Linked DNA regions of Homo sapiens. The protein of the gene in region 1 interacts with the protein of each later gene in a pairwise test. Each region holds a gene or a part of one and is shown in the gene's direction. Other genes may lie near its edges. The genes, in order: ERRFI1, ZPBP, OSTF1 and EFEMP1.

The links.
Region 2: the proteins of ERRFI1 (region 1) and ZPBP interact in a two-hybrid assay, tested with the Homo sapiens proteins (one study listed by BioGRID).
Region 3: the proteins of ERRFI1 (region 1) and OSTF1 interact in a two-hybrid assay, tested with the Homo sapiens proteins (one study listed by BioGRID).
Region 4: the proteins of ERRFI1 (region 1) and EFEMP1 interact in a two-hybrid assay, tested with the Homo sapiens proteins (one study listed by BioGRID).

What each region holds. Positions count from the first base shown.
Region 1 is NC_000001.11:8,011,227-8,017,245, reverse strand, and holds the end of ERRFI1 (ERBB receptor feedback inhibitor 1), read left to right. Parts: exon of another isoform or gene 1-1,553; 5' UTR 1,554-1,626; coding exon 1,627-1,751; intron 1,752-1,845; exon of another isoform or gene 1,846-1,861; coding exon 1,862-1,938; intron 1,939-2,849; coding exon 2,850-4,036; 3' UTR 4,037-5,519; downstream 5,520-6,019.
Region 2 is NC_000007.14:50,089,548-50,097,362, reverse strand, and holds the start of ZPBP (zona pellucida-binding protein 1 isoform 1 precursor), read left to right. Parts: upstream 1-4,116; 5' UTR 4,117-4,168; coding exon 4,169-4,295; intron 4,296-4,341; exon of another isoform or gene 4,342-4,500; intron 4,501-7,653; coding exon 7,654-7,734; intron 7,735-7,815. Other genes in the region: protein SPMIP7, read right to left, coding at 725-1,277.
Region 3 is NC_000009.12:75,083,106-75,092,023, forward strand, and holds the start of OSTF1 (osteoclast-stimulating factor 1), read left to right. Parts: upstream 1-5,408; 5' UTR 5,409-5,587; coding exon 5,588-5,621; coding exon of another isoform or gene 5,622-5,630; intron 5,631-8,918.
Region 4 is NC_000002.12:55,864,830-55,872,081, reverse strand, and holds the end of EFEMP1 (EGF-containing fibulin-like extracellular matrix protein 1 precursor), read left to right. Parts: intron 1-958; coding exon 959-1,082; intron 1,083-1,166; coding exon 1,167-1,362; intron 1,363-4,847; coding exon 4,848-5,009; 3' UTR 5,010-6,115; downstream 6,116-7,252. UniProt on the Homo sapiens protein: Binds EGFR, the EGF receptor, inducing EGFR autophosphorylation and the activation of downstream signaling pathways. May play a role in cell adhesion and migration. May function as a negative regulator of chondrocyte differentiation.

The sequences.
Region 1 (6,019 bases):
TGAACCTGTAGAACATTACTTATCACTGTGTTCCTTTCTAATGGGAAAATAATAATAAACACTTGCAGAGTATTTTTTAAAAGTTTTTAGCTTTAAAAAAAAAAACCCTGTGCCTTACACAATGTGTATATTGAGTTGATACTGATTATGATAATTAGATGGTATTATACAATCATTCATTCAGCAAACATTCACTTACTGAGCACCTACTAATGTTCCAGGTACTGATTGTTAAAAGGTGATTGAGACACAGCCTCTGTCCTGAGCTTAGTCTAGTAGGAGGTGACAGATTTGTAAATAATAGATTTGAAGTTGCTGAGCAAAAAAAAAAACAAAAAAAAAAACCTGTGTACCTCTCCCCCACAGCAAATGTGTCACATTTGCACAGTGCCCAGCCTTTGCACAGTGCCCAGCACTCAGCTGTGCAGATATTATTTGCACTGATCCCTTACTAATATTTAGTGAGAGAATGAGATCGTGTTAAAGAGTGTATATGTACGTGCCCCCAAAAGGGGTCAGTGTTACACAATAGTTGACAAATAATATCCTGGTGCCTAAGGAAAAAAACCTAAACTTATAAATAAACTTGGCTATCTGAAGACAGCAGAGATTGATGCTGACTAACACATAACGAATAATAAAAAAGGAAAGTGAAAAGGGGGCTATAGGGACTCCAGACCTGTAACATCTGACAAAGGGGATTGGCGGTCCTGAAGTTGAGGAACTACTAATTTAAGAAAAATGTACTTATTTTGTTATCCATGCCTTGCAGCTAAGCAAGATATGAGTTACTGGGTGTTTCACAAAGGAGGATGTAAAGAATGTACCTTTAACTTGTCTTTAAAAGGGAGGGAGGAAGCTGTCCCAGGCTTTTACTGAAGCCAGTAATCTTGCAGAACTTGATTTTTACAGGATAATGGAAATTAGTATCTTCATATATTACTGTTTGTTCCTTGAACAAGTAGTAACTGGAGAATTTGTCTCCCCATGGCCAACCCTGAAATACAAAATCCAGATAAATGCTAGACCCTGGGGTAGTCAGGTGCCAATACTGTAGAAACTCTTGCTTAGTTTCAGCATTGTGTTTTAGTGAGTATTAGTTCTACAGCATAAAATACAGTGGCTTCTGAAATTACTTTTTTAGCTTGGGAAAAATAAGCAGGATCCACTGGTGCTTCATGCCCAGTGCAGCCGTAACTTAGAAGGCTGGTTTAATAAGTCAGGGGAGGGTCTGTGTGCATTGCCAAGTGAGTGTGATTTGTTGTGCAACTCTCAGGCTGTGCAGTAGGAGGTCTGCTTTTGCTGGCAATAGATTATTTCTCATTTCACTAAAACATTTCATGTCTTTTGGATTAGCATTTACACAAAAAATCATTTTTAGTGTTTACATATAAGTACCCTCACGAGCTGTGAGAATTAAGTGAAAGTCTACAACTAATTTTTTCTATTCAGCATCCCCCAAATCCTCTGTTAGCTTTGCTGTAATTTAGACTGTCCTAATGGAGGTATTTCTGAATTGTTTTCTTTATTCTCTCATCTCTTCTACCTCCCAGGGAATGAAAGCTACTGGTTGATTTTAAAGTGCCTGGGCCTCACAGGTTTGGAGATGTCCCAGAATAAGGCACAATGTCAATAGCAGGAGTTGCTGCTCAGGAGATCAGAGTCCCATTAAAAACTGGATTTCTACATAATGGCCGAGCCATGGGGAATATGAGGAAGACCTACTGGAGCAGTCGCAGTGAGTTTAAAAAGTAAGTAGAGGATGTAATGCTGCTGTAATCTGGATAAATATGTGACACTAAAATGGGAGAGGCTGTGATTGCTCTTCGCTTATGACCAAAGTAGCTTCCTCTCCTTTCAGCAACTTTTTAAATATTGACCCGATAACCATGGCCTACAGTCTGAACTCTTCTGCTCAGGAGCGCCTAATACCACTTGGTATGTATTCTGAAAATCTGATCACAGTAAGCATTTGAGAAGAACAGTCTGGATTCGGGTTAGCTTGTCCTCCAGCATTATTTTTTAAATGAGGAAACCTGAACTATTTCCAACAACAGCCTGACCCCTAGTGGCAACAGATTCAGAAGATAACTGTGTTTTTCTCAAGCTATTGTACTCGACTGCCTTCATTCTGAGTCACTGATTGCTAAGTAGGACTGTTCATGGACGTGGGATCTTCTAAAATCAAGAATTAGTTCTCATTCCAGCTCTGATGCATACTTTACTTCATGAAACCTTAGGCGAGATTTCCCACCTTTCTTACTAGTATCGAATGCATGTTTGACAGTAATAGATGAAAATAGTATAAATGTTCCTCAAAACTTAAAAAATAGTATTTTTAATGTGAATATTCTGTTCCTTGGATCTTTGTCAAGAGCTGTGTGTGAACTGAACACATTGCAGGCAAGTCCATTCACTCACAATATTATGATGTGCCAGCAATAAGGACTTTGTCTTATCTCATTGGTACCCTACGTGCCTAGTATGGTCGCATGTCTTAAATGGCAAGGCTGGTACAGTATGGTATTCATGTAAATTATATGCTATTCATCTTCCGCGAATTTTACACACGTCACAAAACTTGCCTGTGATGTGTGGGTGTGCGCTGTGCACATGTCCAAGGGAGATAGAGGAGATAGTTTGTTCTTTGAACCACACCATGTGCGTTAAGAATCTTCTGCTCTCTAATTACACCTGTGGTGGTTGCATGGGTGTTCTCGGGGTGACAGCAGTCAAGTGTTTCACTCAGGAAGAAAGCTGTGGAAGCATAGGTAGCTGGGGTGCTCTCTCCCTCACACAGGTGGAGAGAGGATTGTTGATCTTTTATTAATATCTCTCGTTCATTCCAGGGCATGCTTCCAAATCTGCTCCGATGAATGGCCACTGCTTTGCAGAAAATGGTCCATCTCAAAAGTCCAGCTTGCCCCCTCTTCTTATTCCCCCAAGTGAAAACTTGGGACCACATGAAGAGGATCAAGTTGTATGTGGTTTTAAGAAACTCACAGTGAATGGGGTTTGTGCTTCCACCCCTCCACTGACACCCATAAAAAACTCCCCTTCCCTTTTCCCCTGTGCCCCTCTTTGTGAACGGGGTTCTAGGCCTCTTCCACCGTTGCCAATCTCTGAAGCCCTCTCTCTGGATGACACAGACTGTGAGGTGGAATTCCTAACTAGCTCAGATACAGACTTCCTTTTAGAAGACTCTACACTTTCTGATTTCAAATATGATGTTCCTGGCAGGCGAAGCTTCCGTGGGTGTGGACAAATCAACTATGCATATTTTGATACCCCAGCTGTTTCTGCAGCAGATCTCAGCTATGTGTCTGACCAAAATGGAGGTGTCCCAGATCCAAATCCTCCTCCACCTCAGACCCACCGAAGATTAAGAAGGTCTCATTCGGGACCAGCTGGCTCCTTTAACAAGCCAGCCATAAGGATATCCAACTGTTGTATACACAGAGCTTCTCCTAACTCCGATGAAGACAAACCTGAGGTTCCCCCCAGAGTTCCCATACCTCCTAGACCAGTAAAGCCAGATTATAGAAGATGGTCAGCAGAAGTTACTTCGAGCACCTATAGTGATGAAGACAGGCCTCCCAAAGTACCGCCAAGAGAACCTTTGTCACCGAGTAACTCGCGCACACCGAGTCCCAAAAGCCTTCCGTCTTACCTCAATGGGGTCATGCCCCCGACACAGAGCTTTGCCCCTGATCCCAAGTATGTCAGCAGCAAAGCACTGCAAAGACAGAACAGCGAAGGATCTGCCAGTAAGGTTCCTTGCATTCTGCCCATTATTGAAAATGGGAAGAAGGTTAGTTCAACACATTATTACCTACTACCTGAACGACCACCATACCTGGACAAATATGAAAAATTTTTTAGGGAAGCAGAAGAAACAAATGGAGGCGCCCAAATCCAGCCATTACCTGCTGACTGCGGTATATCTTCAGCCACAGAAAAGCCAGACTCAAAAACAAAAATGGATCTGGGTGGCCACGTGAAGCGTAAACATTTATCCTATGTGGTTTCTCCTTAGACCTTGGGGTCATGGTTCAGCAGAGGTTACATAGGAGCAAATGGTTCTCAATTTTCCAGTTTGATTGAAGTGCAGAGAAAAATCCCTTAGATTGCAAAATAAAATAGTTGAACTCTCTGTCTTCATGTGGAAGGTTTAGAGCAGTTGTGAGATGCTGTTATGCTGAGAAACCCTGACTTTGTTAGTGTTGGAAAAAAGTCTTACAAGTCTATAATTTAAAGATGTGATGGTGGGGAGGGGAGGATGGGGAAGCTTTTTATATATGCATACATTACATACCTATATATAAACTTGTGGTATAACCATAGACCATAGCTGCAGGTTAACCAATTAGTTACTATCGTAGAGTAATATATATTCAGAATAATAAACTCAAGCTGGAGAAATGAGTCCTGATAGACTGAAAATTGAGCAAATGGAAGAAGATACAGTATTGTTTAGATCAGAATCATTAAAAAATATTTTTGTTTAGTAAGTTTGAAGATTTCTGGCTTTTAGGCCTTTTCTATTTTGTTCCATTTATTTTTGCAGGCAATCTTTTCCATGGAGGGCAGGGTATCCATTCTTTACCATGGGTGTACCTGCTTAGGTTAAAAATCATACCAAGGCCTCATACTTCCAGGTTTCATGTTGCGTCTTGTTGAGGGAGGGAGAGCAGGTTACTTGGCAACCATATTGTCACCTGTACCTGTCACACATCTTGAAAAATAAAACGATAATAGAACTAGTGACTAATTTTCCCTTACAGTTCCTGCTTGGTCCCACCCACTGAAGTAGCTCATCGTAGTGCGGGCCGTATTAGAGGCAGTGGGGTACGTTAGACTCAGATGGAAAAGTATTCTAGGTGCCAGTGTTAGGATGTCAGTTTTACAAAATAATGAAGCAATTAGCTATGTGATTGAGAGTTATTGTTTGGGGATGTGTGTTGTGGTTTTGCTTTTTTTTTTTAGACTGTATTAATAAACATACAACACAAGCTGGCCTTGTGTTGCTGGTTCCTATTCAGTATTTCCTGGGGATTGTTTGCTTTTTAAGTAAAACACTTCTGACCCATAGCTCAGTATGTCTGAATTCCAGAGGTCACATCAGCATCTTTCTGCTTTGAAAACTCTCACAGCTGTGGCTGCTTCACTTAGATGCAGTGAGACACATAGTTGGTGTTCCGATTTTCACATCCTTCCATGTATTTATCTTGAAGAGATAAGCACAGAAGAGAAGGTGCTCACTAACAGAGGTACATTACTGCAATGTTCTCTTAACAGTTAAACAAGCTGTTTACAGTTTAAACTGCTGAATATTATTTGAGCTATTTAAAGCTTATTATATTTTAGTATGAACTAAATGAAGGTTAAAACATGCTTAAGAAAAATGCACTGATTTCTGCATTATGTGTACAGTATTGGACAAAGGATTTTATTCATTTTGTTGCATTATTTTGAATATTGTCTTTTCATTTTAATAAAGTTATAATACTTATTTATGATACCATTAGTAATGTTTCTTGCCTAAAGTCTTATAAAGTGTATGAAGCAATTTGACAGCATTATTTTTAAGCACAAGCGAAGATTCTTTGAAGTTTAATGTATTCTTGAAACTCTTATTCTTTAGAATGAAACATAATTTGTGCAATCTTTTTCACATATTATGAAAGTATACAGTGGAAATGAGCTGTTTGTTTTTACCTTTAACAACTGAAAGAGAACTGGATTCTGGGGTTACTATCAGAAACAACGTTGGGGGTGGGAGTCCACATCAAGGAGAACGTGACAGAAGAAACCAGTTCTGATGTGTAGACTTGGTTTGACTCATTCTGATTTTTAGGACGAGGTCCCGGTTACTCTGGGCCCTTTGGCAGGCTTTGCTTCTTGCTTAAGGCCACCCAAGGAATCTGCACCTGCCTTGGCCTGTCATGGAGATGGCAAGTCCACAGTGGACAAATGGGCTCCTGGCAGCCTTTGGATGGAGGCAGGGGCTGGAGTGCTC
Region 2 (7,815 bases), on another chromosome or scaffold:
ATAATGTTTAAAAGTATTCTTCCTATAGCATTTGGCCCTTTCCTTTTCCGATGCTAAAAATGTTGATCTTTTTACATTCCTGCCTGCCAGACAGCTTTTATACAGAAAATAGTACCTGTGGCTTTCCTTTGGAGGTGTTTCTCATCATTTAGAGGAACTCCATTTACAGGAGTTCTTACAGAGAAACCACATGGTGCAGATGTCAGTAAGAGGTCATCAAACCTGCCTCCATGGCTGTGGAGCTATTTATGCAGAGTTTGCTTCATTTCAGCTTCTGTTCTTATTGGAGCCAAAAAATGTACGTTCAAGTACTTAAATTTTTCCCATTTTATTTCAATCCTTAAAACTAACTCTTTCATAATATCAGTGAATTCATTCTTTCAAAGGAGAGAGACAGATAAGGAGGATTTCTATACAATTATCAAAGTGATACATAAATTCCCCTGTGGTAAAACAAGCTTATCCATATATCTAGAATAAATAATGTTATATACTTTGTGTTAATCACTAATGAATGTTCTTTTCTTAAAGAATAAATTTTCTTTTACAAATAAGTTTATAAGGTTTATCATTCCTTTGTTTCTTATAATCTGTAATTTAAAAATAAAACCTTTTTCAGATCATTGTAATTTTGTTAATTTAACTGCCTAAATATTGAATCTTATGTCCATACTCTCTTCCCTTGAGCATTTAAAAAATAGAAAGTTCATGTCACTTCATTTACCTCCAAGTCTTGCTCTGATAGAAATGTCTGGTACTTCCCTGGAATTCCATCTCCTGTTCTGTTGCAGTTCTTCTGATAGAATTTTTTGCCTTTTTATTGTTGTTTGAAATCCTGTGTCTGGTCTGGGAACTCGATGTTGAGGTTTCACATCACTAAAATCCACTAGGGTTGGTATGGTTCTGCCAATGCCAGGATTTAAATCAGCATCACCACCAGGACTCATAAACCCTGAACAGGAATCACCTAAGGTCACATCATCCCGAAGTGGAAATAATGGATAATGTGGCCCATATGGTGGGGGATAAGGATCATGTAAATGATAGTCTGGCAAAACTGAAGGGGGATAAGGGTGAAATTTAAGAAAAGCAGGGTTGCATTTCTTTTCAAACCTGCCATAGTTATGTCTGTTCTCAAGACCTTTCACAAAAGGCATGTTCATTTTTCTTAAGAGATCACAATAGTGTGGGTAATCTATATTCTCAACAGTTCCTGAAAGGATGGACCTTTTAGAGATACTTATCTTTCCAGGTGTGTCCTGAATTTCTACATCCATGGCCTTTTTCTTTAGAATTTTTGATAACTATAAAGTATTTCTGATAATTCCTTTATATTTAACTATATAAACTCTATTGCCAATAACTAAAGATCTGTGTTAAACTAGTATAAAATTGACACAGCTTTCTAAATGTTGGCAGATAATTTTGTTTTTCTTTTTAAGGCAAATATTTTCCTCCACCAAAGGAAGAATAGGGCAATGAAGGAACATGACATAAGGAGAATAAAGCAGAGCCCTTGTTGCCTGGCAACGGCTAGAATTCTTAACACATTGAACCATTTATTATGTACATCACAATTCTTAAGAAAAACAAAAATAGCCTTGGTACTAATATTTCCATGATACTTTTCTCCCCAGTGCTCAGGAAAGCTGTGTTCATTTACTTATTTTAAAATTTTTCCATAAGTTGGTATTTTATGGGTATAAAATATATTTAAGGAGTGTAAATAAAGCAGTTAATTCAGTGACAATACATTTCTCAAAAGTATATATGTGACTACAATTAAGTATTTATATATATAACACTTGCTATCTAATTAAATGTAAATCTAAATGCACTACAAAATATAAACATTACTAAAGTTAAATTGGTACATCTAATTTTTTTTTTTTGGTGGAGTCTCACTCTGTCGCCTAGGCTGGAGTGCAGTGGTGTGATCTTGGCTCACTGCAAGCTCCGCCTCCCAGGTTCACGCCATTCTCCTGCCTCAGCCTCCCAAGCAGCTGGGACTGCAGGCGCCCGCCACCATGCCCGGCTAATTTTTTGTATTTTTAGTAGAGATGGGGTTTCACTGTGTTAGCCAGGATGGTCTCGATCTCCTGACCTTGTGATCTGCCCGCCTCGGCCTCCCAAAGTGCTGGGATTACAGGTGTGAGCCACTGTGCCCAGCCCTAGTATATCTAATTTTTAAGAAAAACAGAAAATTATAATGAAAGTACAGGTACATCTTTACATGCCCTAAATTATCTTTACTTCCCTTAAATTTGCCATGGTGTCCAGAGTAAGAACAGTAAGAGTTTTAAGTTCATTTTAGGAAACCACAATGGGTATCAGTTAACTGTCTACACACAAAATATCATTTAAATCACTAATGTATTGGTTCACTTAAAAGCTCTTTCACCTGGATAATTTCATCTTGCATGAACTACTATAAGAGGAAATGCAAATATTAGAATTTGGGGTAAAAGTTCACATCATCCTTACTGCAGCAAAAATGTTAAAACAGGCAAGATTCTAGCTTTGAAGAGTCAGGCACATAATCGTTAATCAGGCCAACTGTCAAGGGTGATATGTTTGGTACAATCAGAATGCCTATGCCCCATTGAAAGTCTTTACAATTTTGAGATATACTATTAAACAAGTGAGATTAAATTAGGTGGTTAGGCTGTCAGTTTTAAATCCTTCATCCAGATCATAGCATATCAAGTGACAGTTTTTAGTCCACCCATGATCACTCATTTCTTCATATCAAAAGTGATAACTCACTTGTAATTAGGCATTCTACATTTAGTTGCTCAAACTTCATTCTTCAATGTATTTAAACCAACTGCTTAAGATTTATTTCTATCACAGCTCTGCTCCCATTAAGTAAATCCTTCCAGCAGCAGAAAAGTAGAGGCATGAGTCTCTTTCAATTTCTCTAAAACAAGTTCTAGCTATAAATGGCCTCTTAGGCTGTGTATGGGAAAATAATAACCCCCATAACTTTGTACTTAGAATGGATCCTTTACAAGAGACAGATTAACAAGAGAAAAACAGATGTTTATTAATATATTTCATTTATATATGAGGAACACCCAGAGAATGAGTAGTTCTCAAAGAAGCGTCTTTGAATTCCAGCTTGTATAGCATCTTCAACAAAGACTAGGAAATTTTTAGAGATGTGACAAAGGAAAAGGACTCTGAGTCTCTACAGGCAGTAACTTGGGCTAAGCAAACAAATAGCAGACAAAAGATGGTTTAAAAAAAGCTAATATTAATTCCTCTGATATCATTTCAAGGCTAATGAGGGTCTGACGCTGTCTTCAGTGGTTAACCTTTGTTCTCCCTGGTAAAGGAGTGGGGCAGGATACCTTTTCTCTTTCTAATCTATGTCTTGCTTCTGGGTAAAAAGAGGGCAGGTGGACAGCTCTCCTGCATCTGCTGGTTCTTGTCTTCAGGGCAGCAATCCTTCATATTTGAGAAGGTATATTCTGGTCTCCCACACAGGATAGATGGTTTTGTATGTTTTGCTGAATTTAGGTGACACTATAAGATGATCTTCCGGTCTATTTTAGAAAGTAAATTTCATCTATGGTTATTTCCTCTGTCCTTCCATCAAGCTTCTTTCTGAGGCTAAAGGCCTTACTTACCTTTAATTCCCACTAAGTGTGTATTGCATTTATCTCCCAATTAAGTTCCACACATCCATAAAATACTATCTGCTGACATTACTAGATCAAAGCAGTCCACTGAGGGCTTTACACGTCTTAACTCATGCATTCTCACTATCTGTTGTTCGAAACTGGGCCCCACATCTACCACCTGGCTCATAAAAAGGGCTTTTCGATCATAAACGCTATGCAAAGGTAAAAGCACGGGATTTGGGGCCCAACGATTCTCTCTCAGCTCTAGGATCTTGGACAAATCACTGATGTTCTTGAGGATGCCCTGCGTGGCTGTGTTGTCCTGAAGGCCCGGGGGCTGCACAGCACAGTTGGCGCGTGTAGGCCCCACCAGCTATGTGGAGACACAGGCTGACCCCTAGTCTACCACCCCGGCGGAAGTGGGAGCACGTCCATCAGGTCCGTTGTTCCGGTCCTCCGCCCGCCAACTTCCGGCTGCAGGTGGGCGCGCGTTGCCTAACGACCTTCCGCGCGGACGGTGGGCAGGCGACGGCGGCGTGTGGATGGAGGCCTTCGCCCTTGGCCCAGCGCGGCGGGGCAGGCGGCGGACCCGGGCCGCCGGCTCCCTGCTCTCTCGGGCCGCCATCCTCCTCTTTATCTCCGCCTTCCTGGTGCGGGTGCCCTCATCAGGTGAGGGTCCGCGCCGCCCTGCCGGCTCCGCAGGGACAACCGCAGCTTCCCCCACTCTTCGAATTGCCTTTTCTTGTGTCACGTGCATCCGTTTTATATAGAGACACCTTGCTCACTAATACGTGACAAGAAAGGCTTATTTTTTATGGAAGTCGTACAAAGTCACTCTGCATTTGCATAGAGGAGTGAATGACAGGAAATTAAGGTATAGATGGATCACTACGTCACCCACAGTTGAAGTTTTACAATTAAATTGCTTTGTTGATAAACTCCCCAATTCAGTCCATGGGTCATCTGCCAGGTTTGCATTTCAGTGTGTGAACTCTGTAATGATGAGATCAGTGTCTTTCAAATAGGCAACCTGCTGCTTTCAAATTATCCGTGATGGTGGAGCGCCATCTATTGGTTTTAGCTGTGAAATACAGGAAATAATGCGATTTTAAAGTTTTGACCTCTAAAGAATTGAAGTACTTTTCTATACTGTTTTAAAAATACATGTAAGATACTGATGAACAAACACTGACGAAGGATGTGAAAGTTTAATTGAACTGTTATTTAACTAGAAAGGTTTTGGCTGCATTCTAGACTCAAAATTCTAGACCCAAAATTGATAAAATCACAGAGATTTGCTTCAAATGAAAAAAGTTGTTCAAATAAGGAATAATGAAAAAAAGAAGTCCTCCAAGAATATAAATGTAAAAGGTTTGTGGAGGTAGGTAGGGGATAGGGGAGGAGAAAGGAAACAAATGGAGTGAATAGAGATTTAAAAATCAAAGTCCAGGCATCAGGAATCCAAAGATTATTCTTCTATAAGTATATGAATAGCCGATAGCCATCAATTGCCATGTAGGAGAAAGATGCTTCTTGGATATGGGTCGTGGTCGTGTATTAGGTGTGAAAGGGTTTTTATTTTAAATTTTTACCTGGTGATCTTTTGATGAAATAATAAGATTAGACCTATGAGATATAAGAAATAGAATAAGCAGTTAGTATCTTGTAAGTGATGAATAGTGAAGGCCTCTTATATAGCATTTTACAATTTATACAGTATTCTCATTTTCTACAGTAACTGTAAGGATGGAATTATTATTAGTCCCATTTTACATATAAGAAAACTGAAGCTCCTAGAGTTTAAAGTGATTTTCCTAAAACCAGTAAGTGGCAGAATTAGGATTTAAACTCAAGTCCTCTGGCTTTGATACCACATCCTTTTCTTTGCACTTTGCTATTCCTGTCTGCTAAAGGCTATTTGGGTATAATGCTTTATTGCATTTTTATACTGCCCCTCACACTATTATGCCCATCACATTTGCTCATTTAACAATGAAGACTATCAGAATATGTTTCACAATTATTATTTAATATTTACAATGTGCAAGGTATAGTGTTTGATACTGATTCTTGATAAGTTAACATAAACATTGATCCCACTATCAATGGAGCTTATAATCTAATAAGGAAAATGGTATGTGTGTATCAAGAACTATAGTATAAGCCGATGTCTACAAGGGTTTTTCTGATATTATCTTCTAGAATTTTTATAGTTTCAGGTCCTAGATTTAAGTCCTTAATTCATCTTGAGTTGATTTTTATGTAAGGTGAGAGATGAGGATCCAGTTTCATTCTTCTGCATGTGGCTTTCCAATTATCCCAGCACCATTTAGGCAAAGATTTCATGTCCAAGAACCCAAAAGCAAATGCAACAAAAACAAGGACAAATATGTCGGACTTAATTAAACTAAAGAGCTTTTGCACAGCAAACGGAACAGTCAGCAGAGTAAACAGACAACCCACAGAATGGGAGAAAACCTTCACAATATATACATCTGGCAAAGGACTAATATCTGGAATCTATATCTAGAATCTACAAGGAACTCAAACAAATTAGCATGAAAAAAAACCCCAACAGTCCCATCAAAAAGTGGGCTAAGGACATGAATAGGCAGTTCTCAAAAGAAGATATACAAATGGCCAACAAACATATGAAAAAATGCTCAACATCACTAGTTATCAGAGAAATGCAAATCAAAACCACAATGTGATATCACCTTACTCTCGCAAGAATGGCCATAATCAAAAAATAAAAAAAAAAATAGATGTTGGTGTGGATGCAGTGAAAAGGGAACACTTCTACACTGCTGGTGGGAATGTAAACTAGTACAACCACTATGGAAAATTGTGGAGATTCCCTAAAGAACTGAAAGTAGAACTACCACTGGATCCAGCAGTCCAACTACTGGTGTCTACCCGGAGGAAAATAAGTCATTATATGAAAAAGGTACTTGCACACACACGTTGATAGCAGCACAATTCACAGTTGCAAAAACATGGAACCAGCCCAAATGCCCATCAGTCAATGAGTGGATAAAGAAACTGTGGTGTATGGTATATGTGTATATATATATGTGTGTGTGTGTGTGCATGTGTGTGTGTATATATATACACATATATACACATATATACGCATATATACGCATATATATACACAAATATATACACATATATATGCATATATATGCACACATATATACACACATATATATACACATATATACACATATATATACACTCATATACACACACACACACACAAACATAAATATATATATGGAATACTACTCAACTATAAAAAGGAATGGATTAATGGCACTTGCAGCAACCTGGATGGGATTGGAGACTATTATTCTAAGTGAAGTAACTCAGGAATGCAAAACCAAACATTATATGTTCTCATTTATAAGTGGGAGCTAAGCTATGAGGATGCAAAGGCATGAGAATGATACAATGGTCTTTGGGGACTCGGGGGTGGGAGAAACGGTGGGATGGGGGTGAGGGATAAAAGACTACAAATTGGGTTTAGTGTTTATTATGTGATGGGTATACCAAAATCTCAAAAATCCTTACTAAAGAATTTATGTAACCGAATACCACCTGTTCCTCCAAAACTTAAGGAAATTAAAAACAAAGAACTATAGTACAATGTAGAATGAGTGTTATTAAAAAGGTGCTGGTGATGTACTGTGGCAGATAAGAAGTGCTAAGGACAAACGAGGTTTGAAGGAGAAGGGACTTGTGATTTGGGTCTTGAATGGTGGGAGATTTGAACTTCTAATAATGAAGAGATTATTCTAAATGGCTTTAGAAAAAATCAGAGGTGAGATATAATATGGAGAAGCAGTACGTAGATTAAATTTATCAGATCATCTGAGGGGGAATAGAGTTGGAACAGTGATATCAACTGTCAGAGGAGATTGAATTATGGCTCTCCCCTTCAACCAATACCAAAGATACTGTAATAGTATATTTGAATATTTTAGAATATCTAATGAGACAAATTGTTGATCTTTTTTTTTGATAGTTGGACACTTGGTTCGATTACCAAGAGCTTTTCGCTTGACCAAAGATTCAGTGAAAATAGTGGGATCAACAAGTTTTCCAGGTATTCATAAATATATTTTCACTAATTTTTAAAAGTTATTAGCATTTGTTTAAATTTATCAGTCTTCTCCAAAAGGCTAAT
Region 3 (8,918 bases), on another chromosome or scaffold:
ATGTTTTCATAATTAGCTTTGAAAATCACAGCTTCCTAATATTTCCTAAAAGTAAAAAAACAAACAAACAAATCAAATGCATTTCATTTAGATGTCTAGGGAGATAAAAGAATCCTAAATTAGGAGCACCAGCTGAGAGGGGAGGATGACAGTGACCTTTCAGCCCAGCCCCGCATTATCCACATTCCCGCCGCACTGGCTTCCCCTGCTACCACTGAGTGCCAACCACTGGGGTGTGCTCAGGACTGTCAAACAGTTCAACGTCAGGTGACCTGCCGGAGCACTCCCCCTTGAACGTCTGTTTTCTGGGCGTGGAAGAACTGCTAGGCCACAGCGTGGTATATGAAGTTTCATCCTCTCCTTAGCCAGGTTGCCTTCCACCTTCACGATTCAGTCGCCTGGGTATGACTCATTATCAGTGAGGGAGGGACCCCTGTGGGCTGGCCTCTTTCTCCCCTCATGAGACAAGGAAAAAGTCACTGCTGACCAGAGGCAAAAAGAAGCTAATGCCGTTTAAAGATACTGCCCTTATGAGACAAGAAGAAAGTTACTGCTGGCCAGAGGCAAAATGAAGCTAATGCCGTTTAAAGACACTATTTCTTCACCCAAAAGCCTAGGTCTTGGGCCTGGCTAGGTACATTTTTTTTGGAAACAGGCCAGACAGTAAATATTTGACACTATGTGGGCCAAGAGGCAAAATCTAGGTTGTTATGTATGGACTTATATAACAAGAGAAAAAACATTTTCACAATTTTTTTTGATGAAATTCAACATATAATCATAATTTTTTTAACAGGTCTACTAATGACAAGAATGAAATTCCCTTTTATTGGGCTATCATTTCTCTTAATTGGATTTCTGTTGTGCTTTCTACATGAAACTGCAAATGTTCAGGCAGAGGGCCAAGTTAAGCCACCGGCCACTGTTTTGTGGATTTTTGGTTTAGGGGATGGAGGGCAGTTTCATACATGCCTCCCTAACGTTCACTAAAGTAGTCCTTGGTTATTACAATGGGCCATTTTTCTCACTAAGTGAAAAGGTGAAGCACAGCTGGAGGGAATCTTAGAATAGTGGCTCCTGAAGGTCATCCCTGAAGGCCACTCTTCTTCCTTCCTATCTGCTCAGGGGGGTTGCCAGGGACCTAGGCCGTGTAGCCAGGGGCAAGCGGCTGCCTGCCAAGCTGGAGGCTCCCAGCAATGCTCCAGTTTCTATGATCTGTGTCCACACTCTCCCTGGGGAGGGGTTATGCAGAAAAAAGCCTGGTGGGAAGAGGGCTATTGTTGTCTGACTTCTTGGCTTATCTAAATATCCCACATTGAGTACAATTGCTTAAGACTGGGGTCCACTTCCATTAACAAGTCTATGTGAGACAAGAATCAATAATGACTGTGATAAAATAGCAGCAGGGCACTGTGGCTCATGCCTATAATCCCAGCACTTTGGGAGGCCAAGGCAGGCGGATTGCTTGAGCTCAGGAGGTTGAGACCAGCCTGGGCAACATGGCAAAACGCTACCTCTACCAAAAATACAAAAGATTATCCAGGCATGGTGGCATGCTCCTGTAGTCCCAGCTACTTCGGAGGCTGAGGTGGGAGGATTGCTTGAGCCTACAAGGTGGGGGTAGCAGTGAGTGGAGATTGAGCCGCTGCACTCCAGCCTGGGTGGCAGAGTGAGGCCCTGTCTTAAAAAATAAAATAAAATAGCAGACAAGTTGCATATTTAAGTTTCATCCAGAGTTATGTTGTTGAATACACATCTCCATCCAAATTTACAAGATGTATCGAGGGAATGACTGCATACAATGAATATTGTAAAATACATTTTTATGTTGTAATTTTTCTGCTTTTGAATTTTATTTTACCCTATTCTTATTTTTTTGGTATGTCGGTTCAATGCTGCCAATTAGCCTTTTTTTGGGAAGGGAGAGGCTGCTCTTTATCTCACTTTTGTGGTGATAAATGTTCTTTCTCTTACAAAACTATGTTGTCAGAAGATGTTAGTAGAGTGATATCCTCACTTTACCAAATAAAATAAAAATTCATAAAACCTTGTCATTCCTTGCCCCCATTATTTTTGGATAGCTCGCTGAAGCATAAATTCTCAAACTTGGAGAAGTATAGCTTTAGCGATTACTTGGTCTACCCCTTCATTTTGCATAAGTGGAAACTGGCTCAGACAATAGAGCAATTTGCCTAAGGTCACACAGACAGTAAGTGGAAAAGCCAGATATTAAACTAAACCAATTGAGCTGACTTCTTTCTATCACTCCAAGCTGCTAAAAAGCACTTTATTACTAACAGCAAAGAAAGGGTGTTAGGTATGTGCTAGCTTAATTGTCAGGCTCTGATGTATAATTGATGTCATTCTTACTGATGTATTATTGATGGGGCATCTATTTGCTGTGCACACAGAATGGAAAGGACTACTGGTCCCCGTCCTAAACTGCCACATCTGTGGTTACACGTGTGACCATTGCATCAATTACATGGCATGTAAATAACAAGTGAGCATGGTTGTGGCATGGGAAATAGGCTTGAGGGGGTTACTTGCATTCAGGAACCAGGAGTAAGATGGCATAAAAAACCTACTTATAAAATCTCTCAGATACAGTCAAATGTAAGTTTTTTTTTTTTTTTTTTTTTTTTTTTAACCAAAACAGGAACTCCCAGTTCTACATTAGTTAGCAGTCTGGGCCTGTCCAAGCCAGTGTTTGGGTAAATGCTGGGCATACCCTATCAGCTATGAGCAAGTGACAATGTGATGGGAAGGGTGGGTAACTGGAACATGCAGAGACAAGAGAGGCAACTGGGCTAAGTGACTAGGGCGGGGTGGGGGGTGGGCCTAGCAATCCCTGAAGGCATTTATTTCAAAAACAGTGTGGATGCACAGGGCAGCTTTAGGGGAGCTCCAAGTTCAGGCCTGGCACTGTCCACCTCCACATCACATTCTACTATTTCATTGCCTGTTGCCCCTATAAAAAAAATCACCAAGGCTGCAGTGAGCCATGACTGTGCCACTGCATTGCAGCCTTGGTGACACAGCGAGACCCTATCTTGAAAAAAACCAAAACAAACAGGCAAAAAACAACCCAAAAACTGCCTCCCATAAAACCAAAAACAAAACAAAAAATCAAATTTAAAAAGCTCGCAATTGAGTTGCCAGGCTTCATGAAGCAAATGCAAGCTTCGTACAAACTGTAAATCATGTGATGTGTCCAAAGAGTCATCATTTCAGGGCACGTCTATCACTAGAATCCACACCACCTTCAATCTCATGGAATATCTGTGTAGTTTATTTTCCCAGTGCGTGCAAGGCTTTCCTCAACAGCGGAGAGCTTTTGCATAGCAGGAGAACAAACTAGGATAGCCAAGAGCAAACCTGAAATGACTAATTTTATTTTTTACACTTTTTTTTAACCCTAAGTAAAATGTTGGGTTTTTTAAAATAATTCAGGTGTGTTTATTATGCTTAATTCATTTCACTACTAAACACTTGCCTTTTGGATTCTAAACTGCAGAATGGTCAGAAGTGGCATGTGCAGAATCAGCAGATTGTACGAACTCTCTAACGCAGCTCTCTAACGCAAATGATCTGAAAGACAGCTGACAAAGCTAAATGTGCTCTTCAAATGTATCTACAGGACAGTCTGATATTTTAAAAAGAGAAAAATGTTTCCAGGACTTCTTACTCTGTATTCTATCCAACAGCTATTTTGATTCTCTTCTTCCAGGAGATAGGGCAGTCTTTTCCTACTATTGTTTAAACTTTGCTCCCTTTTGGTAAACAAATCCCTCAAGGCTGGGTTTTTTTTTTTTTTTTAAGACAGAGTCTCGCTCTGTTGCCAGGCTGGAGTGCAGTGGCGCAATCTCGGCTTACTGCAACCTCCGCCTTCTGGGTTCAAGTGATTCTCCTGCCCCAGCCTCCCGAGTAGCTGGGACTACAGGCGTCTGCCACCACGCCCGGCTAATTTTTTGCAGTTTTAGTAGAGATCGGGTTTCACCAGGTTGGCCAAGATGGTCTTGATCTCTTGACCTCGTGATCCACCCGCCTTGCCCTCCCAAAGTGCTGGGATTACAGACGTGAAGGGCTGGGGTTTTTGAAAACGCAATTCATGCCCCTCCCCCATTGGTTTCATTTATGTAGGTTCTTAGGTAAACAGTTTTTTCTTTCCCCAAATATACAATTAATTTACAATATTGACTGTTATTTTGAACTTATGCCATTGGCTTCCTTGTGTGCTCCAGTTCTTTCCTCCCACCGAAGATTCAATCCGATAGATCAGGGGTAGGAAAACTTTTTCTGTAAAGTGCCAGACAGGAAATGCTTTGGGCTTTGCCAGCTGCTACTCAACCCTGCTGGGTAATGCGAAAGCGGCCACAGAAAACACAGATGCAAATGAGCGTGACCGTGTTCCAGTAAAATTTTACGGACACTGAAATCGTAATTTCATGTAATTTTCACGTGTCACAAAGTATTATATTTCTTTTTATTTCTTTTCAGTCATTAAAAAAAGTAAAAAAAAAAAAAATTCTTAGCAGGCCTTACAGTAACAGGCAGCAGGCGGGCAGTAGGTCATCACCCCAACGCTAGAGGAATGAGACCATATCGATCCGCGAGGATCAAGTCCTGATCCTGTCCCTGGCGACTTCTCCAGGCTGCGCGGTCTCTTGGAGGCAGCGTTCCCATTTTCAGGATTATTCCGGGGCGCTAGAGCACCACGCCACCATGAGTACACGTCCTCCTCGGCAGGCCACCTATCAGCTCTGTGAGGGTGGCAAGAGTCCAGGCAAGGCTTTCAGGGCGCAACCAAGTCCCGGGCTCCAGCACAGAAACCCTCTGGAAACACCTCCAGGCCCCAGCAAGGCGGCGCGGCGCGGCAGGGGCGAGCAGGTACGCACTCACCTGGCGCCAGTTCGAGTCCTCCCAAACACAGCGGCAGAGGCGACAGCCAAGCGCGCGCCTGTACCCAGTGCGCCGCTACCCGCAGCTCGCTCCCCGAGAGGCCCACAGCCCCTTTCCCCACGCTCCTCCTGGGTTAGAGGGATGCCAGGTAGGGGCGGTCACCAGAGGCCCCTTTTCTCTACTCTCGGCGCCGGGTTCCAGCCCCCGTTGGGGCGGGGCGGGGCGGGGCGGGGCTCCGGCTAGCTTGGCCTCTTCCGCGCGCCCCTGCGCAGCTCCGGCCCTTCCCTATCGGGAGCGCGCGCGGCCCGCGGCACTGCACTGGCGCACGCCCGCTTCGCCCTCGCTCGGCTCCGGCTGGTTCCGCCGCCGTGCGCGCCGCCCGCGCTCCTGCTGCGGCGAAGCTGCCAGCCCGGGAGCCAATTAGCGCTCGGCTAGGCGGGGTCCACTTCCTCGTCGGCCCGGCGCGCGCTCTGGACTGCTCCGGCGGCCGCGGGGCGGGGCGGAGCACTCGGCGGAGCCGCTCTGCCTGCGTCCGCTCTTCCCGCAGCCAAGGGTGGGCGCCGGTCCTAGGAGGCGCACGGTTGTAAGCCAGACAAAAAGAACTGGGGTGCCCGGAGTGCCAGGTGGCGGGCAAGCGGTGGGCTTTTCGGCGGGGTCTTTAGGATTTGCAGCTCCAGGAAGCGAGATGTCGAAGCCGCCACCCAAACCAGTCAAACCAGGTGAGGGAGGTAAGGTAGGCGCTTGCCAGGTCCTGCGACCGCCGCGGTGCCGGCGCCTCCTCTGCAGCTTGGCAGGGAGGACCCGGCGCGCACCCGGCCCCGAGCCTGGCTTCCGAGATCGGCCCCACCGGGATGGGCGCTCTTAGTTTTGCGTTCGCTGTTACGGAGGAGGGATCGATTTTGATAGCAAGAGGATTTCGAGGATTAATATATATATATATATTTAAAGGGGAGTAGCCCTCACTTTTGCTACGTTGTCATTCGCTGAAACTTTCAGAGGGTGTGATGGCAACGTCCCATGGAAGTTTTCCGGAAAGACAGGGCCATTGATCTCCCTTTAAAAAATGTCATGAAATGATCTTTAGCCACTTCCTCTTTTCTCAGTGTTTGTCACTGTCAAGTTAGGGTTCCTGACCGGCCAGAGCGAACGGGAAGTGCAATCCCTGCAGGGTGGGGTGGGCGAGCGAGCCTCCCTCGGGACTTAAGCGTGGAGCAGCGTTTGAAATTGACCTCGGGATCTTGGGAAGAGCGTTTAGAAAAAAACCCTATACTCGCGCTCCTGGTGGAAAGAATCTAGGATGCGGCAGTGATCTCAGCTGTTGCTATTTGGAAGTGTCATTTTATCATCTCCTTTGCCTTTGCTCTCCCAAAGACGTTGGCGTGCTAAACCTGAGAGGGCTGAGATTACTAAATTCCTCAAAGCAGTTTTCTGGGCGGATTGTCCTTGTTCATTTTTGCTCTGTTCTTAGAATATTTTCTGTGATATGCAGAAATAAGATAATTGTAAAAGAAACTGACGTATTTTAATTAAAAGTTGTAACATACTGTTCCGCTCATTCATTTGGGTAGGTAATTAGAAAGGACTGACGTATTTCAATACTTTAACAACTCTTACGTGCATTCATTTGGGTAGGTAATTAAGGGAAATACAGGAAATGGAAGATAAATGGCTCCGATGTATTCTTGGGTTTTTTCTTCCCATAGTGTAATTTCGGTATAGCGAAATGCTGAAATTTAATCCATTTACGTCAAATTTTGAAGTAACTTTCTTTGCAAGAGATGAGTTTCAGTGATTACTTTTTTCCTTGATTTTCCTAAACTCTATAGCTTTCATACTTATCTAGTTTTGTTTCTTTGCGTTCCTGCAGTTGGAGTATGAAGTCCCTTTATTTGATAATCATGTACGTACGTATGTGGAATAGTGCTTCACTGAGGACTGACATCTTGGTGGGCTGAGTGTGAAGGAAGTTGCTGAGACTGGCTCTGCCCTGGGCAAAGATGGGGCACAGCTAGAGTTGGGTTCTGCATTGCATTAGATGTGGAATCTGATGAGAAATTTCCATTTTAAGTGCATATGTATGAGGTAGCTTTCTAAACTCAGGTGCAAATCAGGACCTTAAGTATCTAACAGTGCAGAGTTGTTCTTTGATAGCTAAACAATATTTTATTTATCTTATTTTTTTCTGATCACCTGCTGCCAGTTGAAATACGTTAAAGAATGCCCTTTTTAAAAATCTCTTCATGCGTATTAAATGCTGTCTATATTGCAAATGGAGGGACATTGACAGGTGTGTGTGTGTGTGTGTGTGTGTGTGTGTGTGTGTACACAGTAATGTATACATGTGGGTTCATTCACACTTGGGGGTTTAAGGGTCATCCTGTTACTAATTGTGGATACATTCCCAGGAACCTCCTTTCTCCTTCACATCAGAAAGCTTATGGTTAAACATGACAGGTGTTTAGAGGGAACTTTGCATTTTATTTTATTTTAATTTGTTTTATCTGGTCCTTGATTCAGGATAAAGGGAATTTTGAATCAACATTAATTTACAAATGAGATCCAGACACAAAGTTACCATAGAAATGGGTTTGCCAGTTTAGTAATTTACAGTGAGAAACATTACTGCCAATCAGAGTTGAAACTTTGTGTGGGCTAGCTTAGTTGAAGAAAAAAAAAAAGCGATGGCCAGGAGCAGTGGGCCATGCCTGTAATCCTAGCACTTTATGAGGCTGAGGTGGGAGGATTGCTTGAGGCTAGGAGTTTGAGACTAGCCTGGGCAACATAGCAAGACCCCGTCTCAACAGAGTACAAAAAACAAAAACAGAAATGTCCTATCGTAGTACTGTCCCACATTTACTGTGTGTTAGGCAATGGTATAGTCACTTTACACGTGTTAACACATTTGCTGCTCTCAACAATCTTATGAGATCAGTACCATTATATTGTTCCTGTTGCACAGATGGGGAAATAAAGATGCGCAGAAATGTTATTTAACTTGTCTAAAGTCAACAGTTAGAGTGGGGGATGTAGCAGGCAGTATTAAAACCCAGGTAGTCTGGCTTTGAAGTCTGCACTTTTTTTTTTTTTTTTTTTTTTGAGACAGACTCTCGCTCTGTTGCCCAGGCTGGAGTGCAGTGGCGCGATCTCGGCTCACTGCAACCTCCGCCTCTCGGGATCAAGCAATTCTCTGCCTCAGCCTCCCGAGCAGCTGGGATTACAGGCAGCCCGCCACCATGCCCGGCTAATTTTTTTTTTGTATTTTTAGTAGAGACAGGATCCAGGCTGGTCTTGAACTCCTGACCTTGTGATCCACCCTCCTTCGCTTCCCAAAGTGTGGGATCACTGTGCCTGGCCAAAGTCTGCACTCTTAACCATTTGCTATTCTGCCTTAAGTCATAGTGCTCCATTCACACTGGCGGTCAAATGTGTATTTTAGAGCTGGTGGTCAGGAAGTCGAAAGGGAGGGGCCTCTGGTCTACAGACTTTCTTGTCACAAATGCACATAAAGGTCAGCCCCTGGTTGACAGCAAGGAGAGTGGTGTGGAGCTTTACTTTCTTGTCCTGCAGGCAAGCTGCATGGATAAAAATCTCCAAAGACAGCATGGGATTGGGGGCTTTGGGGTTGTATTTAATTTTTTGGTTTGTTTAAACCTTGCCTCATTCCAAAAGGACTTCTAAAAATACACATGATCTGAGAGAGAGGAAAAAGTAAAGATAAAGCATGGTCATCTAGAGGAAGGGAAGAATAGTAAGATGAAACAAGAGGAAAAGCTAGCTTACAGACAGACCTGCATGTGTAGTAAGGTCACTGTAGATTTGGCTCTCAGCTGCAAGCAGAGAGAAAAATCTCAAGATTCATAGTGCTCATAAAATTAAAATGTGTCACTTACTCTGAAAAGTAGTTATTTTAATGGCATTGAGATCTGAGACAGATTTTCCTGTGGGTTCTCTTAAAGTATTGGAGTGGCCTGGATATCTCTAGCAGAAATACAAGACAGAACATCCTAGCCATGTTT
Region 4 (7,252 bases), on another chromosome or scaffold:
GTTGTTGTTGTTATAAATGTAATGGCTCTCTAGTAAAACTGTTCTCTCAGATGTCATCTGGAGGCTTCTGATTCCCAAATTTAAAGTCAATCTTTGTCCAGCCTGAGGTAAACACAACCCTTCTTCCCAGGATTCTCTCTCCCTCTGACTTCTTTGGCATTGCCTTTTCCTGGGTTGTCTCCCTGCACTGACAGCCTCTTCCTTAACTTCCTCTTTTTCCTTACAGTCCTAAAATTGCTATGCTCTATGAGGTGGAACACTTCATAGTTTCACTTCCTGTGCTGTGCTTCCTCTGGACAGTATAATCCACTCCCAGCATGCTTCAGCTTACTGAAACCAGATTTCTAGCCTTTACCTTTCTCCCAAGTTCCTGAAAGAGATGATAAGCTGCCCTCCATAGTTTATGCTTCCTGATTTCTCAGCTTGGAAAGCCTTCCCTGCCCCAGCCATGAAAACTCCATCTAACCACCACCCTTCAAGGCCACGTTGAGATGCCTCTTCCTTCCTTCAGCCTTCCCTAATCCCCCTGGCAAAATTACCCAACTCTGCTCCACATGCCCCAGTATACTTATCTATCTCTTACTTAATTCCATTTTACTTTCTAAGTAATCATATACACATTCCCTCAATTATAATGTCCCTGATGACAAGAACTGGTGTTTAACTTTTATATAGGCAGAGTCAGTGGTTAACATTGGGGTTTGAATTCAACAGATGAACAATAGGTGCTTGATAAAATATCATGAAATGACACATATTAATCTGCCTAGAATGTCTCAGCTCTGTCTGTCCTGAATTCAATACAATGAACACCCAGTCTTGTGTCTAAAAGCAGGTTGAACACAGTCCAGATGCTCTCACACCTCCTTCCTTGCAAACAGAATCTGCCAGTTATATGATTTAATTAGATCAGTTCATTAGTTTAGTTAGTAAACTCTTTGACCCTACATCTCTACAGATATAAATGAGTGTGAGACCACAAATGAATGCCGGGAGGATGAAATGTGTTGGAATTATCATGGCGGCTTCCGTTGTTATCCACGAAATCCTTGTCAAGATCCCTACATTCTAACACCAGAGAAGTAAGAAAAATCAGAACTTTTGAAAGTGAGGATTTTCTGGTCTTACCAAGCCAAACTGCTGAATACTTTTGTTTGTCTCTGCAGCCGATGTGTTTGCCCAGTCTCAAATGCCATGTGCCGAGAACTGCCCCAGTCAATAGTCTACAAATACATGAGCATCCGATCTGATAGGTCTGTGCCATCAGACATCTTCCAGATACAGGCCACAACTATTTATGCCAACACCATCAATACTTTTCGGATTAAATCTGGAAATGAAAATGGAGAGTTCTACCTACGAGTAAGTATCCTGAAGGCAGCCTTAACTATTGAGAAAGATGGGAGTTTGTTGTTGTTGTTGTTGTTGTTGTTGTTGTGTGGTATCCACATGTGGAAGGAAAGCAAACATTTAAAGTGTCTTATGTGTAGGCATTGTGTAAGGCCTTCCAGCTACATTATTTCATTTATTCCTCTTGGTAACACTGCCAGATAGATATTAATATTCATCTCCATTTTTTACAGAGGAGAAAAGTGAGATGCAGAAAGATTAAGTAGCATCCCTGAAATCACTCAAATATTAAGTTTGGCAGACTCTGATAGAGTTGTGTGTGACCACGAAAATACAAGCCTCCCATCCCCCCGCCTCTGCCCCCACCCAACATACCCCCCAAGTAGGTATCACTAATCATTGATGGTTAATTAATTATACATAGACATACATATAATTCAAACCCAAAATAATTCCTGGAGCTCCTAAAGAGTTTTTCAGACATCATGAATTCATCATTGTTACATTCACAAGACAGTTTGTGTTCACACCGAAACTAAAACCTATAAGTATGTGAGAAGTGACCCCACCTCCCCGCACAGTATGTGTCAGTAGTTGTACCATTCTTGCCAACTTCTGGGCTGGCAGTATGGAGTCATCTCCCTATCTTTCATTGCCTGTGTGAAATCTACTTTCTGAATTCTGCCATTTCCCTCTTCACACTGTCTCCTGGGTTATCTTTGCTTCCTCACATCCCTATCTCTCTTCCTATAAACTGGCTCCCGTCACTTCCATGATCCCTTCAGTGGCTTCTGAGCTGGTCTCCCTGACCCCAAAGCCTCAGCCTTCCAGTCTCCCTACAAAATCTCAGCAAGTTCATTTTAGGTTAAAATTTGGACATATTTTAAATACGGCTCACCACTTCATGTGAAAATGATGGCACCCTACCAAGCAGTTTGCAGAGTTACGGTAACTGTTTCATGCTAATGATGTTATTCATCCAGTTACAATTTTCTCAAAACTCCTTTGGGCACTCTTTATTTTTAATCAAATTTTAAAGCCAATATTTCATTTTGAGAATATGAATTAAATTGGGAAATTCATCCTTGTGGTACAGTTTACAGATTTTTAATGTTTACCCATTTATCCTGTTTTTTGATATATTAATTTCCCATATAGCTCCAGAGTTATGTGATATTATTTCTTTGCCAGTATATTAGAAAATGATTAATTTCTCATGACCAACTTCTGAAAAGAAAGACCCAATGCAAAATGCAATCTATTACAATTATTTTTTTGAATAAAAAAGAATATATTATAGTTCTTTAACATTTGATATTTTAAATTTGACATATTCTTGATATTTGTAAGAAATTTCCACTGAATGAATTTTACACAATTCAGATACTACCAATTAACTAATTCTAGCCTAAACAAATAACATTATTTTTAAATAACAAAATCTTTAAAAATAATTTTCTATTTTGAACTTTTAGCCATAATGTAAGAAAATAAAATTTTCTAGCAGAATAATCAAAGAGTGAAACAAAGTTCCAACATGTTTTTTCTTTGCAATTAAACATGGCACTTTTACAGTTATTTATTATTCATATCAGTGCACTTACCGACTTCATATTTTCAAATCAAAATACAGTGTTTTTCTCCAGTGAAATCCTTATTCTCATGACTGATAGAAAACATTGCCAATTTTGATATTTCCAGAGTTAATGTTAAATTATTTGAAAGAAAATTATTTAAAATAATAAAAATAGACATTTCAAGACTATTTCTTATCACATAATTCAAAAAGTACTTGGATCAAATCCTACAGAGTTTCTCCACTAAAATTCTACTTGTGCAGAGGGCATTGAAACGCATGAAAATCAACAGCAGGTTAGTTAGGTTAATTAATTCGGTTAATTAAGCACCTACTACATGCTCAGCTCTATGCTAGGTGTCATGAGGAATTAAAAGGACATGTAATGCACATTTTCTGATTTCAAGGAGCTTTAAATATTATTGTGTAGAAAAAGTTAACATCTATGAAAATAGAAGTGGGGCAATTTTGTGCTTAATTCCATGGTCCAGATACATCAAAAAATCAATGTGGGCTGTCAAAGAAGGTTTCTTGATAGTCATGAGTCAGCCTGATTCTTGAAAGGATATGTGGAATATAAAATTTTATTTATATTCCTTTTGAGAAAATACTGAGAAAACCATCTTCCCTGGAAAAGAGAACGTATTGTAAAGAAAGTACATGAAATTGAAGGTTGAATATCCAACATCCCCCACACTGCCCCAGTGTCTCTGCTCCCTTACTGAGCCTTACTATTATTCTTCATAGCCCTATCACTACCTAGTCTAGTATTCACTGAACTGTGTCATCCACTAGAATATGAGCATAATGAGAGCAGAGACTACACCTGTCGGTTCAGTATTCTATCCTCAGCACATAGAATGGTACCTGGCACATAGCAGATGCTAAAATAAAATTTAAATGAATAAATTAATTCAATCAACACCTTCAAGGTGTTATTATTACCTACAACTATTGTTTACAAGAGGTATGCACCGTGGAAGATCCTGGAGACACAACAATGAATAAAGCCAAGCCAGTTCCTGCCCCCGTGGAGCTTGTAGTCAAGACATTGAACAAGTGATCAGAAAGATGTTGACTGCTGCAGCAGAGGGTTGCAAGCTGCTCATGAGTATATAACAAGTAGCCCTAACCAAAGCATTCTCTCCCTTGGTTTAATGTCCACCCATTGAGGTGACTGCTAAATACTAATCCATGACTCTATCCCTTGGCATTCAAACTCACACATCCACTTACCTGCCTCTCCAACCTCATCTCCCTCCACTCACAAGAGCCCATCATATTATTCATCAAAATGAAACTGCACCCAGTTCTTCTGAACATATTACTTTACAAAACTTTCATTTATGCCTGGTGACTCTCATCAGGCATTCAAAAGCTTTCCCTCAGTGCTTCAGGGCTCTTCCTTTTCTTCCCTTTATACATACACCTTTATGTATCTTCATACGTACCCTGCATAACCTCATATATCTTAGCATTTACCATATTCTGTTGAAAAACTGTTTCCATTTCTCTTTACTTACTAGAATGTAAACAGATGCACAATGTTGAGAAAATGAAAAGTGACAACTTTGTTTACAAGTTTAGAAATTATCAGATTCTCACTTAAGCTCTAGTCTCTGTAAAGTCCACAACTACTCAATAAAAGTGAAGAAAAATGTTAACAGAGAGGGAGGAATCAAAAACAAAGAACTATTTAAAAAAAAAAAAAAGCAAGTCCTTGAAACTTGGAGCTAATGACTGTATTAGACAAGGGATAAGAGCCAAGAAGAGTTGAAACCAAGAAGGGACCAAGTAGTGGCTCTTTTATACCACCTTCAAAATTCTCCCCCTAATTCTTATAGGAGGTATACTAACAAAGCATAGAAACTCCAATCCAAGAAAATTATTCTCTTCCTTTCTCTATTTTCTTTTATTTTAGCAAACAAGTCCTGTAAGTGCAATGCTTGTGCTCGTGAAGTCATTATCAGGACCAAGAGAACATATCGTGGACCTGGAGATGCTGACAGTCAGCAGTATAGGGACCTTCCGCACAAGCTCTGTGTTAAGATTGACAATAATAGTGGGGCCATTTTCATTTTAGTCTTTTCTAAGAGTCAACCACAGGCATTTAAGTCAGCCAAAGAATATTGTTACCTTAAAGCACTATTTTATTTATAGATATATCTAGTGCATCTACATCTCTATACTGTACACTCACCCATAATTCAAACAATTACACCATGGTATAAAGTGGGCATTTAATATGTAAAGATTCAAAGTTTGTCTTTATTACTATATGTAAATTAGACATTAATCCACTAAACTGGTCTTCTTCAAGAGAGCTAAGTATACACTATCTGGTGAAACTTGGATTCTTTCCTATAAAAGTGGGACCAAGCAATGATGATCTTCTGTGGTGCTTAAGGAAACTTACTAGAGCTCCACTAACAGTCTCATAAGGAGGCAGCCATCATAACCATTGAATAGCATGCAAGGGTAAGAATGAGTTTTTAACTGCTTTGTAAGAAAATGGAAAAGGTCAATAAAGATATATTTCTTTAGAAAATGGGGATCTGCCATATTTGTGTTGGTTTTTATTTTCATATCCAGCCTAAAGGTGGTTGTTTATTATATAGTAATAAATCATTGCTGTACAATATGCTGGTTTCTGTAGGGTATTTTTAATTTTGTCAGAAATTTTAGATTGTGAATATTTTGTAAAAAACAGTAAGCAAAATTTTCCAGAATTCCCAAAATGAACCAGATATCCCCTAGAAAATTATACTATTGAGAAATCTATGGGGAGGATATGAGAAAATAAATTCCTTCTAAACCACATTGGAACTGACCTGAAGAAGCAAACTCGGAAAATATAATAACATCCCTGAATTCAGGACTTCCACAAGATGCAGAACAAAATGGATAAAAGGTATTTCACTGGAGAAGTTTTAATTTCTAAGTAAAATTTAAATCCTAACACTTCACTAATTTATAACTAAAATTTCTCATCTTCGTACTTGATGCTCACAGAGGAAGAAAATGATGATGGTTTTTATTCCTGGCATCCAGAGTGACAGTGAACTTAAGCAAATTACCCTCCTACCCAATTCTATGGAATATTTTATACGTCTCCTTGTTTAAAATGTCACTGCTTTACTTTGATGTATCATATTTTTAAATAAAAATAAATATTCCTTTAGAAGATCACTCTATCTTTGGAGGTTTTTCAGTGTAGTCAGTAGCCCCCAATATAATTTTTATATCTGGGATAAACATCAGTTATAGGTGCCAGCACAAGAACTACCATTAGGTTTTTTTTTTAATAAATAAACTGGGAGATGAGGAAGCAAAAATACAGTTAAAATCATGCCACAAAACAGCCAACTTTTTCTTAAGTCTAGTTTCACAGCATATATGCATAACCTCTGTCACCAGGTAATCTTGCTGCTAAAACAAATACCTCTCAAAGAGTTGACTCATGTGCAGAAATTGCCAAAAAGAAAGTTCAGCAAAAGCCCAAGGAACAAAACACAAACTCCTTCTGTGAGAGTAGGGGATGGGCTCTTAAAGGTTAAAGGGGCACAGAAACAGTGGAGAGAGAACAGATCTGACCAAGGGACAGCACAGAAGCAGAGTCAACAACCAGCCACAACACAGCAAGACTGTTGAGTTCATTCCTCTTACCCTGTCTACATGGTTGCTTACAGTCAAGATAAATTACAGCTTGATCTAAATGTTTCCATTTTTAATCAATCTAGTGATTTTCCTACATACAAAAACAGCTCTCAAGTGAGAGCTGGGAATAGCAACAGTTAAAGAAAAAAAGCCTAAGACCTTCTTCCAACACATTTTTCCCTCTTAAACAAGAAAACCGGTCTTGTCTATGGCTCCCCAGGGAATTGTAGAAGAAACAGGAATCTCTGAAATGTTTATGCTAAGCCCTGGCCCTCAATTTCTACCTCCAAATATATATATATATATATATTTTCTGGGCCTGCGGAAGCCATTAACTGCAGACAAGATGTTTGCCCTTTTATCCCAAAGCCTAGTCCTACCCACAAATTACAGACACAAGGAAGAGGGTTGATACTGAAGTTTCACTGAGGCAATTTCTTTGTTCTGTTGTGATAAAATTTACCATTTTAGACATTTTAAAGTGTACAGTTCAGTGGCATGGAGTACACTCAGAGTGTTGAGCAAATATCGTCACTATCTAGTTCAGGGGCCCCCAACCACTCCCCCAACAACTGGGCTGCAGACTGGTACCTGTCCATGGCCTGTTAGGAACCGGGCCGCACAGCAGGAGGTGAGTGGTGGGCGAGCATTACCACCTGAGCTCTGCCT